Linked DNA regions of Homo sapiens. The protein of the gene in region 2 interacts with the protein of the main gene of each other region in a biochemical or structural test. Each region holds a gene or a part of one and is shown on either strand. Other genes may lie near its edges.

Region 1 (5,938 bases), on a different chromosome or scaffold from region 2:
TTGATGTTCATTTAGGGGAGAGGTGTCAGAAGGTCTGGGAAGATCCACAGTGGAAAAAGTTTATCTGTATTTCGTGGAGACTGATGGCCAGCTCCCTTCTGCCCAGGACTTCTGGAGAAGGCCAGCCCTACCACTTGCTTAAATACCTCCCATCTCCAGCCCTTCAGTAAATATTTAAGTGATTTGTTAAATATTTAAACCTTAAGAAAATTGAGTAACCCAGTGGAACTTGAATTTAACTAGAATTTAAGTTTGAGAATAGCTGGTCAGTAGAACAAATGTGACATACTATGGGTGACATAGATTGGGTGACATACTATGGCTTTTAAGGGGTTTTGTTTTGTTCTGTTTGTTTTCTTAAGCAGAGTTAACAATAATTTGAATAAAGAAGGAAAACATTAAATGCTTGGCATGTGTAATGTGAATGCTATTCCATAACTTGTTCAGCCATAGCCTCAATTTGACATGCTAGGCTATGAATCCTAAAGACTGGTATATGGTTACCGCACTGGAGTTACTTTTCTCATTCCAACAACTACAGAACATTTTGAATAGTTTTTTAAAATTTTATTTTAACGAAAGTTAAGAAAAAACCCTTACTTATACACTAAAGAAAATAAACATAAAATGGTCTCCCGCCTGACTCACAAAAGTCCCATGGCCTGATCCTGGCCAGCAGGAGCAGTTGGTGATGAGGATCCAGGGCAAGATGCAGCTGAGCTGCCAGCCTCCTAGATGTGGTTCCCTGGTGTCTACGGTCTGGGTGAGGGATGGTGCAGAGCCGGTGTTCTGGCCAGCATCCCGGTGGGTTCCCAGCCACTGCAGGATGTTGCCAGCCTACGGGTTTTCGGGCTCCAGCTGGCAGGACAGCTTGTAGCTGCAGGACAGAGAAGCAGCTGTGAGGCCACCATGAGCCACACATCAGGTCCCCTGTCAGTGCCTGCCCAGCTGGAATCCTGGGTCCCCAGTGGTCCCCATGCAACAGGGCTTGATGCTGGCCGTGGAGGCATGGCCATAGGCTCTCTGCAGCTGGCCACGGGAGAGCCTCCTCTAGGCCAGGTGGGGTGGCTCACACCTGTAACGTCAGTACTTTGGGAGGCTGAGGTGGGTGGATTGCTTGAGGCCAGGAGTTTGAGACGATCCTGGACATCATCGTGAAACCCCATCTGTACCAGAACAACAACAGCAGAACAACCGGACATGGTGGTGTACAGCGGTAGTCCCAGCTGCTTGGGAGGCTGAGGAAGGACTTGAGCCCAGAAGGCAGACGTTGCAGTGAACAGAGATGGTGACACTGCAGTGCAGCCTGGGCGACAGAGCCAGACCATGTTAAAAAAAAAAAATGGAGAGCCTTCTCCCACCCTCAGCCCATGGGCTAGGCCCTCACCTCTCTTTGTCACTGAGCTGCTCCATTCTTGTGAAATAGGTGACAAATTTCTCAAGAGGCCGAAGCCTGTAATTCATGGCAGCCACTTGGAGCAGCTGCATTTCCTGCAGAACTCGGACCTCCTAGAGACAGAGGACAGGATGCTGACAGGGCCTGGGTGGAAGTTGCTGTGGGGGCCTTTGGCAGGCAGGGAGAAGGGGCTGGTCCCTGGGGCAGTTTTCTGAAGGGGTCCCATGCAGCGCCCCCAGCCTGTTCTCAGAGTTGGATATAAACAGCCCCTCCTGCAGGAATTGGTCTTTGATTCCAGTGCTTTTCCCATTTTCTCCTGGGATAGGTCCCCTCCTCCTGTGTGTGTCAAACACTCCCAGTAAGCCTAAGATGTAGAGGATGGAGCCAGGGAGTGTCCTGCCCAGGGTGGACTGTGACGTCCACATCCCCACCCTCATCCAACGTGAGTGCCCCAGCTGCTCACCTTGCTCCTCTTGTTGGTGTTGCCCTGGAAGGCAGACAGAGTCCATCAGAAAGGCCCCTGGCCCACAACCAGCCCCACCCCACCCCTTCCCATGCTGCACTACTGCCAGGGCCACCAGGGTCAGGGGATGTGCACACGACAGGACTTGGACCTGCCTCAGGCTCCGGGCTCTAGAGCAGGGGGAATGGGAGCTGAGGCCCAGGGACCTTCTGCCCCAACCCTCTGTGATGACAGACAGGGAAACTGAGGTCTCTCATAGAAAGAAAGCGCTCAGTGACCTTGGAACTGCCTGCCCTTGGAGAGGCTCAATTTCACCCTCCTATTACGGGACTACCCTAGGGAGAAGCTGAGCCCAGTTCAGCCCACACCTCAGCAGCTTTGCAGTCAGGCAGCTCTGCAGCTTCACCACTCAGGAATAGGGCCTGGTGGCTGCCATGGAGCCTCCATCACTCAGAGGTGATGAGATGGGCCTGACACCCCCACCCACAGGAGCAGCTGTGAGGCTCTTAGGAGAGGAGGTTTGCCAAGGGCTGAGATCTAAAGGCTCGGTCCAGGACCCTCTCCTCCCAAGCTTCAGGATCTTGGTTCCCAAGCACCCTGCCCCAGGCTCACTCACATCCAGGTCGTCCGGGATGGCCGAATCCAGCCTCTGTAACTCAGTCAGAAAATCCCCCAGGAAGGGGACCACACCCTGTGCCAAGGAGGGGTGGGGAGGTGGGAGGGGTAGTGGTGATGAGTATTGGCCCTCAGGTGCCTGCCCAAGGTCCTGTCCCATGAAATCCCATCAGCCCCTGTCTCCCAGAGCCCCCTCCTCAGGTCTCCCGGTTGGAGCAGCCAAAGACCCTCAGCTGCCTTTCCCAATTCTCTGCCTCCTGTATCCCAGCTGACCTCCAAGTCTAGCAAGCACTCCTTGTTAACCTCTATGGTGGGATTTTAACAAGTCACAAAGGCCTGTGGTCCCAGCTTTACCCTTCCCCACATCTAGTCTGAGTCCAGCTTTCCCAGACCCTTCCTCTGGTCTCTCAAATGAAGGTTTTCCAGGCCCAGTGGCCACAGGAGGACAGGGCTGGGGAGGAAGCCCCCGCTGTCTTGATATGGAGGCCTCCAGCTGGCGGGGAAGGGAGCCCTGTCCTCTGATCCCCTGCGGCCCGTCCATGCCACAGGCTCACTCACCTTCTTCTGCCTCCGCAGCCTCATCTGGACTCTCTGGGGGTTCCTCTCCTGGGTGGCCACCTTAAAGCTCCCCGCCTGCCAGGTGTCAGCGACAGGGACAGTGAGGCTCTCCTCCTCTCCCCCAGTTACACCCCAGCCACCCCGCACTTGGATCCCCAGGGAGTGGCGGGAGCCACCTGGCACCGTGCTCATACCACTGGCCCAGATCCACACTCCCTGTGTGTGTCACCCAGTCTTGCAGCCGGGCCTCCCTGAGACTGTTTCCTCTTCTGTAAAGAGTGATGCAAACCACAGCTACCTCACAGGGCCTCTGAGGGCTCAGTTTCCTGTAGCTGTTGCCGTTGTTCTCACCGTCATCCCTCTGAGGAAGAACCAGGCACGAGCACCCTCAAATTGCTTTCTTTTCTTGAACTTCATTTCTACCCTGTGAGGCCTGCACTACAGGCTCAGCATCCCTTCATTTTCCAGATGAGGAAACAGAGGCCCAGAGCGGGCAGTGGCTCCCCAGGGCCCCCAAAGAGAGGACGCCTCCTTCTGCTCCTGGAGGCTCCGTCTCGGCTGCCTTCAGCTCACATCCCAGCACCACCACCCATCAGGGTCGTGTTCTCTGGAGTCTTTGAGTGTCTAGGTCTCCAGCCACATACAGTCGTGATGGGAAAGGGACAGGGCATTTTAGGAGACCTGGTTAAGTGGCACCTGCCTATCCCAGCCCCACTGGAATCTCTGCCACGCAAACTGGGTTTGAGCCATGCCAAAGGCTTCGCCTCGCCAATGATCCCCCAGGGGAGTTCCGTGCACGGAACTCTCTCTTTCTCCACTGAGGAAGTAGCCTCCTGATGCGCCATCTCTGACTGCAATGGCAGGGTTTTCCAGAGTCCTGGGTGGGGTGACATGTTGCCTTCTCATTTGCATGGACGATTCTGAGATCTGGTCAGGGAGGATCCCCTAGCAATGTATGAATCCCCCAGATACTTGTCATGAGCATGCGTCGCTGCTAACCGGTGAGAATCCTCTGACATGACCGTTTTTGGGTGTCTGCAAAGGGCAGAGTGGGGAGTCCCAGCAAACAGCTACGTCTGTCCCCAGTATGCCCATTGGTACCCAAAGCTGGGCAGTTACTGGACTCCCTGCCACATGAGCTTCCTCTGTTGTTGTTCCCCCTCTCCCCCAGTGCAGGCCAAGGCCCCCTGCCCATGGAGGTGTGCTGCAGACAGCAGCAGCAGCAGCAGCAGCAGCAGCAGCAGCAGCAGAGGCCTGGCTTCCTGAGGAATTGCTGGCCGGTTTGAGGAAGGAAGGAAGTCCCACCTACCATGATCACCCTCCAGCCTGGAGGAAGCTCCATGCCAGCAGCATGGACCAGCATGGGAGCCAGAGCCCTGCTAATGCTGCAGCTCATCACCCCTGCTCAGCAGCCCAGCAGCCCAGCAGCCATTGCCACATCCCATTTCCAGGGCCTCCTGCCCCCATGCCCCCACGTGCCCATGGACCGACACACCACTCTTCCTGTTGGCCCAAGGTAGGCATGGAGGGAATTTTTCAAGTCCACTTTTAGTAGGTAAGTCAAAACCAAACAAAATAACCACTCGACACCTGGTCCAATGCCCTTCCAAACTCACTCTTTTCTCTGACCCTTAAACACTTGTCCTGCATCTCCCAGACTCCACTGTACCTTGATCAGTAGGTCCCTCTTCACTGCAGTGTCTTTTTTGCAGAGTTCTTTTAGCTCTTTCATGCTTTTGCTATGGGCAGAGGAAAGAAAGAAGGGTAAATTTGGGAATCAGGGGAGATTTGTGAGTTCCAGTCCCTTTTGTTTGAAAACCCAGTGAATCCCAGCTTACTGGGTGAGAGTTTTCAGTGGAGTCCTCTGATCACAGGGGCTCCAGAGGACCAGGGTGGGACCTCTCATGCTCCTCCCCTGGGCCCCATCTCCACTTCACATGAGCCACTGCGTGTTTACAGTTAGCTTTCAGCTGGACACAGAGTTCCACTGCTGGGTACAAACACCTGAAAGCCTCCAGTTGGCTCCAGTCTGTTCCTGATGGTTAAAAAACCTTAGTCCTGAGTTGGAAATCCTTGCCTAGGAGTCCAGGGCAGCTTAGTGACCACAGCCACCGGCCCATCCCTGCCTCCAGTGTCCCTGGACTCCAAGAACCTTTCAGAGTCATTGAGGGCACATGGGGGGAGACCTGTGAGTCCCTAGGTCAACCCTGATGCTGCCATGGAGAGAGCCCTCCTCACCTGGACACTCCTGCCCACGTCTTGTGTAGCTGACCTATTGGGTTGCTGCACAGAGCAGAGACGATGACGTGCACCGAGGAGAAGTTGTTGAGGCTTAGGCACTCCTGGAGAGGGAAGAATGAGCTGTGCGGTTCAGAGTTGGAGCTTGGCCCACTACAGCCTCAGCCCCCTCTGCTGAGATCTCCCCTCCTGGATGAAGCAGAGGCCTGGGGAGCCTCAGGAGGGCAGACCTGGGGCCGAGTGGATGTCACTCATCTAGGAGGATTTTAGTTCAACCCAAGGAAGACCCCAGGTCGGAAGTGAGCAGCCACCACTGGGCCGTGGGAGTCAAGGTGAGTGAAGCTCTGGCAAGAAGAGCCTAGGGGATGTGCAGGGTCCAGGCCAGAGATACAGATGCCGATCCTGAAAGCCGATGGAGGAGAAGAGGAAGTTCCCCATTTTTAAAGAGGGAATCCCCAGGCCCAACCATAGCTTACCCTGGCCACCTTGATCCAGTGCTCCACCACCCTGGCCCTGTCCCGGGCCCTCATGCTGTGGTCCCCGAGGCAGGAGGTGGTGATGCAGTTGGTGAGCCTGTTGAAGTGTGCGATGGTGGCACGAACTGTGGGTGCCATGTGCTCATTCCCCTTCAGATGTCCTTGGCCCCAGATGCAGCCCAAGCATTCGTG
Region 2 (7,282 bases):
TAGTGAATGAGGTCAAGGCAGAAAGCCTCATCTTTAAGGCACAGCGTTAAAATTTTAGCTGTGTGGCAACCACCTTGAACTTTAATTTTAAAAAGAAAAAAGGCCTAACAATAGCAATCCCTGATAGGTGGATTTTCAAATTGTCAGCATTCATCATTGTCACTCAAGGTCACCCTTTTATTAGCTTCAGAGATTTGAATGAGAAAGTATGCTGGGATGGGATAAGAGATAAAAAAAAAAAAGAGATCCCAGAGATTTGAGTTCTGAGAGCAAATACTATTTAGAGACTACACTACAAAGATGGAACACTGTGGCTCTGTCAGTGAACAGTAAGGTGAAAAGAACAAATCTGACCAATAACTCAATGAGAGCAAAATCAAGAAGCTCCACGTATCTTTCAAGGGCACCTCCAGGGGAACCTCCTAGAAGCAGCCAGGCCCGCCCACCCTGCTCCTGAAGAGCAAGGCTGTGGAAGGTGAGAGCACACACAGAAGCTAATGACGTCCATCCCTCCAGCCCAGCCTTCACAAACCAATGGCCTCGTCCCACCATCCTTCCCAGGACCACACCAACAGTAAGCATAGTCCGCCGGGTGTGGTGGCTCACACCTGTAATCCCAGCACTTTGGGAGGCTGAGGCAGGCAGATCACTTGAGCCCAGGAATTTGAGACCACCCTGGGCAACATGGTGAAACCCCATCTCCACAAAAAACAGCCAGTGTGGTGGTGCACACCTGTAGTCCCAGCTACTTGGGAGGCTGAGGTAGGAGGATTGCTTGAGCCCAGGAGGCAGAGGTTGCAGTGAACTGAGATCACACCACTCCAGCCTGGTGTCACAGTGAGACTTTGTCTCAAAAAAGAAAAACCCAAAAGAACACATTAAGCATACTCTAATGAAGCCTCATGACAAAGTAAAAGGTTCTGTGAGTTGTCTGAAATACAAGGTGACATCCTCTCAATGTTTCTCATTATAATCATGATAATGGCTTAGACATTCATAGGAATCAGAATCTTCACCTAGTTTTCATAAATGGTTCCCTAAAACCCAGCAGATGAGATGCCTCCATTCTGCTGTTTCTCAGGTCTGTTTCTGAGAAATACACAGAATTCACGCCTACCTTGTCCACGTTGGCCCGGGTCTTCGCTGACGTCTCCACGTACTGCACGCCCCACTCTTCGGCTTTACTCCTGGCCTCCTCCACAGGCACCTGCCTCCGCTCCTCTAGGTCAGACTTGTTTCCCACGACGAGCAGTGGAATTTTATCTTCTTCAGCCTTCACACGGAGAATCTGTTCCCTAAGGTGTTACACCAAAAATACAGCAGCTAAAAAAACTAAAGAACGAACCCTGGTTTTGTGAACCCATCTAAAATAAAAGGCTTTCCTAAGGCAGAAGGAAAAAAAAAAATCACTAGATTTAGGGCATGTTCTGAGAAAGCACTCCCTAGAGGCAGTCATGAGCAAGACAAGTGTTTTCCAAGTCTGCTTCTCAGTTTGCCCACATCAGAATCCCCTGGGATGCTCATCACAAATGCAGATTTCTGGGCTCAGTCTTACAGAAGTGTCTGGATAGGAGCCCAGGATTTTACGTCACAACAGGGTCCCCAACTTATGCACACACAAAAAAAAAAACAAAAAGAAGAAAAATGGTCAATCTCTGCAATAAAAACAAGCTAAGGGAACTATCTCCATAAAATGCTTAATTCCCCTGAAAATATTTGTTTGTGACATAAAAGCTATGAAATCCAGTGTTTTCTATATGGAAGGTGGCAGCCTATTAGTGGATCACAAAACCAATCTAGTGGGTCGCAACCAGCAGTTTCTCCCCCCTGCAGTGAAATAGATTATAGAACAGAACTGACCAGATCAGAAATATCCAAGGGAATCTCAAGTAGGAAAGGTGAATATTGTATTGTTTTGAAACTTCAGTTTTGATTAGATCTGCATGTGTACACGACAAGTATGTCATCCCATCCCCAGTTTCCATGCAGACACAGTAATGTTATAGGCCACAGAATCGAGACAGATATGTTAGGCAGTAATCACATTCCAATACGTACCATTTTTCTACTACAAAGTGAAAAAAATGAAAGGAAATACGACAAGCCCTATGGAAAAGTACTTCAAAAGTGTCTTCTACAAAAATACCATTACTCGTAGCATATTAAATTTTACGTCTACTAAAAATTATCAGCTATCTGAAAGTACTAATCAAAACTAAATATTTAAAAAAATTAAATACCCCATTTCCATTATTTTGGTCCCATGAGAATATTTCTACTTTTATATGCCAATACATTCTAAAAAGAGTCCCCTTCAAAAATGTATTTTGTAGAGATCTGTATTGATTTTTATATGGTATAGGGTAACATTTCACAATAATAAAAATATTTTCTAGGCGTGGTGGCTCACATCTGTAATGCCAGCACTCTGGGAGCCTGAGGAGGGAGGAACACTTGAGCCCAGGAGTTCAAGACCAGCCTGGGCAACATAGGGAGACCTTGTATCTACAAAAAAAAAAACAAAAAAAAAAACTAAAATTTTCATGTAGTCAATTTAAGTGCCAGACATCAAATATTTTAAGACAAACTAAAAAAGATGAAAAGATGCTTGAAATTGGCTTTGTGTAGCCTTGTTATAGCCTACATTTGAACTGGGGTCAAAGAACATGATACATTTGAAGTCATGTGATCATTATAAACTATGAACAATAAAAACTGATAGCTTTCTGGCTCATTAGTCTTGCAGGGGCACACAAAATTACCTCATTGATAAACATATCGATCCAAAAATGGGAGTACCAAGTTCTGGTCTCTTATGACAGAACTTATCTTAGTTCATAAAATATTTTCCAGAAAAAGTTTCAAGGAAGACAGCATATTCACATGTCATTTTATATTGGGGCCTTTCTATTTGGAAGATAGTACACAAATGCTGTTTTAAAACTGCTAACAGACATGAAGTAAAGTGACTTGAGTTTAGCCACAGGGCTCAGATAATTGACCTGCATTCTTCTGTTCCCAACAACATGAGAAACCTACGCAGAGGTCAACTTCCCCTTCTTTCTGGTTTTAGGTATTCATCTGTCCTTTTTCTTCTAAGGATCTCTCTTTCCACCTAACAACCAAAACCCTTTTCCACATTGAGGGGAGCCCTGCTCCAACTCTGTGAGAACGCCCGAGTGCTATCTGTGCATGTGTGGTGACTGAGGAGAGGACAAGGAGCACTTGAAATACCTGTATTTCTCCATATCCTCTGCAGAGAACTCTCCTGCCCACTTCCCTTCTAAGTAAGTCACAGAACAACAGGAAATCAAAAGGCTCGGGACAGGGAAGAAAAGAAGAGAGTGTGTGCATCTGTCCTGTTTTACCCTCTATGAGGCATTAAAAACAGGACTACGCAGATGCAAACAATTATAAATACATGGGCTACATTCAAACAGAGCAGCCCTTAGGAAGGTCTGAAATGTCTAAAAATTAACAGAACTTCTCATAATGAGTCATAGTCACTTAACTAGTCACTGCACCACACGCACTCTGCTTCCAGAAAAGTAGGTCTTCGACTCTGAAGCCTGGAGCTATGAAGCATCACTGAGGCACCTCCCTATTATCTTTCACTAGCCCTGCTGGGTGACCTGTGCTCACCCGAGGCCTCCCTGGCTCAGTGATGCTTCCATCCAAGTCCTGGAAGGATAGCTAGCTTTCTCCTTTTCACCTCTGGTTGACCACCTTACTGTCAGACCAGAACTTGCTGAAGAATGAAAAAAACTGATTTGATTTTTGGGTTTTTTCTCTTCAGTTCCCTACTAAACTCTAGATCTGCTTCTTAAAAAGTCATCTAGATAGATATGTTTATAAGAAGAACAGATTTTTTAAAACTCAATTATGTAGGAGAAAGGGAAGGGCATGGGGTAAAGAGACATTTATAGAGCATAAGAATTATGCCCAAAAGGCTATTTCTTTATAACAAAATGAACTGAAGGTATTTTTTTCACTGCTATATTTTCTTTTTCTTTCTTCTCTAACACCTTCATGGAGAATAGTTGCCATATTTTAAAATAAATAACAATGGATATTCTACTCACTATGGAAGCACCATGTGTCTACACTGTGACAGGGGACAATGGAGGGTAGCCAGGTTCTTGCCCACATGAAATTCACAGTCTAATACATCCTTTCATTTCATTTCTCAACTCACAAGTGCATTTCCAGAGAAAGAAACAAAATCCTGACACTAAGTAAACTTGCCCATGGTCAGTGAGCGGCAAGGCAGGGATTCAAACCAGGTCTCCTGACTCTAAAGCCGCGTTCTCGTCCCTCCACTGTGCTGAAAGTCCTTAAGTAGCAGCAAATGGTCATTTTGACTCCCATCTTTCACTTTCCAGTCATTGTTTCATAACCTTCAACACAGACTAAACCTGCTACTTTTTTTAGTAACATTATTTAAAGGATAGATGGTTAATTTATCAATGAAAATCTCTGAGTATTTATAGGAACAAAATTATATGTTCTTGATTATATGGAATAGCTTCATTGTTTTCGGGGACAGTAAGACTCTTAAAATTATTTTATTCAGAAATCACAGATCAGGAAAGCCCAAAGAGATTATAATCATCATAGTCTATAATGTGCCAAGATTCAGAAAGCCCCAGAAGATTCTTTAGACAGAATTATTCCTGAGAACAAGCTCAGCCCTCTCCTAGTATGCTCAGCCCCAAATTCTTCATAGGCCTAAGACATATGAGAAAAGGCAAAAAGCTTCCTGGGGGCTTCTGCTATTTCATTTCAGACATACCTGAATTCGGCAGTTGCTGTAAAGGATTCATGTTCTGTGATTGAGAACACAAGAAGAAACCCTTCCCCACTCCGAAAGTAGTTATCTCGAATGGCTGCGTAGTCCTCTTGCCCAGCGGTGTCCAGAATATCTATCTGAACTTCTTCCCCATCAAGAACCACTTTCTTTCTATAACTGTCAGCTTTGGTAGGTTCATAGTCTTCTACAAACTGAGGAAATAAACATTATCGGTAATTAACAAAGTCTTAAGGGGAACAAAATCTGCCAAAAAACAAAATTCCACATATGGGCACTTCACACTATGAACAGGACACTACAGAAGCAACATTTTACGTAACACTTCTGTTCTTTATAGCTCTGTTTTGCCATTTTTTGTTTTTAAACAATACAGGCAGATATCCCAATTTACAGATGAGGAAACCAGGCACAGAGCAGAACACTTGGCAATATTATTGTCAGTATAAAATTTTAATGCAAACACCTGCAAGGGTGAGAAACTGGAATTCTTTTTTAATTATACTTTAAGTTTTAGGGTACATATGCACAATGTGCAGGTTTGTTACACATGTATACACGTGTCATGTTGGTGTGCTGCACCCATTAACTCGTCATTTAACATTAGGTATATCAAAAAACTGGAGTTCTTATTCATAACGGAAGTATAAAATTCATCTGAAAAGTAATTTGGCAAGATGTATGATATGGTCTGGTTCTGCATCCCCACCCAAATCTCATCATTTAGGTTGTAATCCGAATTATCATCCCAATGTGTTGGGGAAGTGACCTTATGGGAGACAATGAGATCATGGGGGCGGTACCCCTATGCTGTTCTTGTGATAGTGAGTTCGTTCTCACAGGACCTGATGGTTTCATAAGGGGCTTTTCCCCACTTCGCTCTGCACTTCTTCCTGGCGCCTTGTGAAGGACATGTTTGCTCCCCCTTCTGCCATGATTGTAAGTTTCCTGAGGCCTCCCCAGCCCTGTGGAAGAAAAGAGGCTATACACCTCTTTTCTTTATAAACTACCCAGTCTTGGGTATTTCTTCACAGCATCAAGAGAATGAACTAACACAGTGTACCAAGAGGCTTTCAGTGGTGTGGGTTTTTGAGAAAGGAATGAAGTAGTACCAACGCACGCTGCAACATGGAACAACTTTCAAAACATGATGCTGAGTGAAAGAAGTTAGACATAAAGGCCACATATTGTATGATTCCATCTATATGAAATGTCCAGAATAGGCAAATCCATAGAAGCAGAAAGCAGTTGCCAGAGGCCAGGGGTGGGACGGGGAAGCAATAACGGGGAATGACTACTAATACGTAGGTTGGTTTTTTTTGGAGTGATGAAAGTGATCTAAAATTAGATAATGGTGATGGTTGCACATCTGTATGAATATACAAAAAAAACCTATTAAATTGTACACTTTAGGCCGGGGCAGGCAGATCACCTGAGGTCAGGAGTTCGAGACCAGCCTGGCTAACATGGTGAAAACCCATCTCTACTAAAAATACAAAAGATTAGCCAGGTATGGTGGTGCACACCTGTAATCCCAGCTACTCAGGAGGCTGAGGCAGGAGAATCACTTGAACCTGGGAAGTGGCGCTTGCAGTGAACCAAGATCGTGCCATTGCACTCCAGCCTAGGCAACAAGAGAAAAACTACATCTCAAAAAAAAAAAATTGTACACTTTAAAAAGAGCGAATTTCATATGTGCATTACATCTTAATAAGGCTGTGATTTAAAATTTTTTTAACTTAAAAATGGAATTGAAAATGTCCAAGTGAATTAAAGGTTATTTGAGGAAGACTGTTAAAAAGAGCCTTGTATTGTCAGTTAACAGCTACTCAAAAATAAAAATATTAAGACATGTTTAGTATTAGGTTCTCTTCAACGTGTACTAATAAATTATCTCCAAATAGAGATGTGAAAACTTGCCTGTGCTTTCAAGTGTCCTTCTTTTAACTCCTTTCCAAAAAGAAAAATACACGCCAAAAAAATCCAACACACGACTGTCCCCTGAAAATCTCTGAATTCTACCATAAATTATCTCAACTGTATATTTCTGAGCTTCCAAGGATAAAGCCAGCCAGAGTTCCACTGGCTCCTTTGACACAGAAGTCAGAATGTCCTGCTGTACCTACATACCTCTGTACTCAATGAAAAGTATGCTGATTACCCCAACATTCCATTACAACCCTGATGTTTATTTACATTGCTCAGCTGGAAACAGAAAATCACAAAGTCTTTGTATCCATTAGCGTGAACCATACGTATCCCCTACTGGCCTTGCAGAGCTCTGCATGGCTCAGTTTCAGATGCCCAAGAGTCTAAGACAAACTTCACGTGGACCCTTTCTTTCTAAGCTGACTTTCCTCTAAGCTGCCAGAGACTGAAAGTCTGAAACGGTTGCTGCCAAAGCCTCTCCATCCCCAACCTTACTCTCCCAAAAAAGGCAAAAACGAGTATGTTAGGCCGAGCATAAGGAGCTTA

What was found.
Region 1: the proteins of RALB (region 2) and RGL4 form a complex in vitro, tested with the Homo sapiens proteins (one study listed by BioGRID).

Annotation. Positions count from the first base shown.
Region 1 is NC_000022.11:23,693,783-23,699,720, reverse strand, and holds the end of RGL4 (ral-GDS-related protein), read right to left. Parts: coding exon 5,747-5,938; intron 5,603-5,746; exon of another isoform or gene 5,375-5,602; coding exon 5,271-5,374; exon of another isoform or gene 4,772-5,270; coding exon 4,702-4,771; exon of another isoform or gene 4,204-4,701; intron 3,306-4,203; exon of another isoform or gene 3,227-3,305; intron 3,108-3,226; coding exon 3,033-3,107; intron 2,551-3,032; coding exon 2,476-2,550; intron 1,884-2,475; coding exon 1,860-1,883; intron 1,510-1,859; coding exon 1,388-1,509; intron 1,167-1,387; coding exon of another isoform or gene 1,076-1,166; intron 878-1,075; coding exon 838-877; coding exon of another isoform or gene 608-837; 3' UTR 553-607; downstream 1-552.
Region 2 is NC_000002.12:120,283,593-120,290,874, reverse strand, and holds part of RALB (ras-related protein Ral-B), read right to left. Parts: intron 5,002-7,282; coding exon 4,793-5,001; intron 1,296-4,792; coding exon 1,118-1,295; intron 1-1,117. UniProt on the Homo sapiens protein: Multifunctional GTPase involved in a variety of cellular processes including gene expression, cell migration, cell proliferation, oncogenic transformation and membrane trafficking.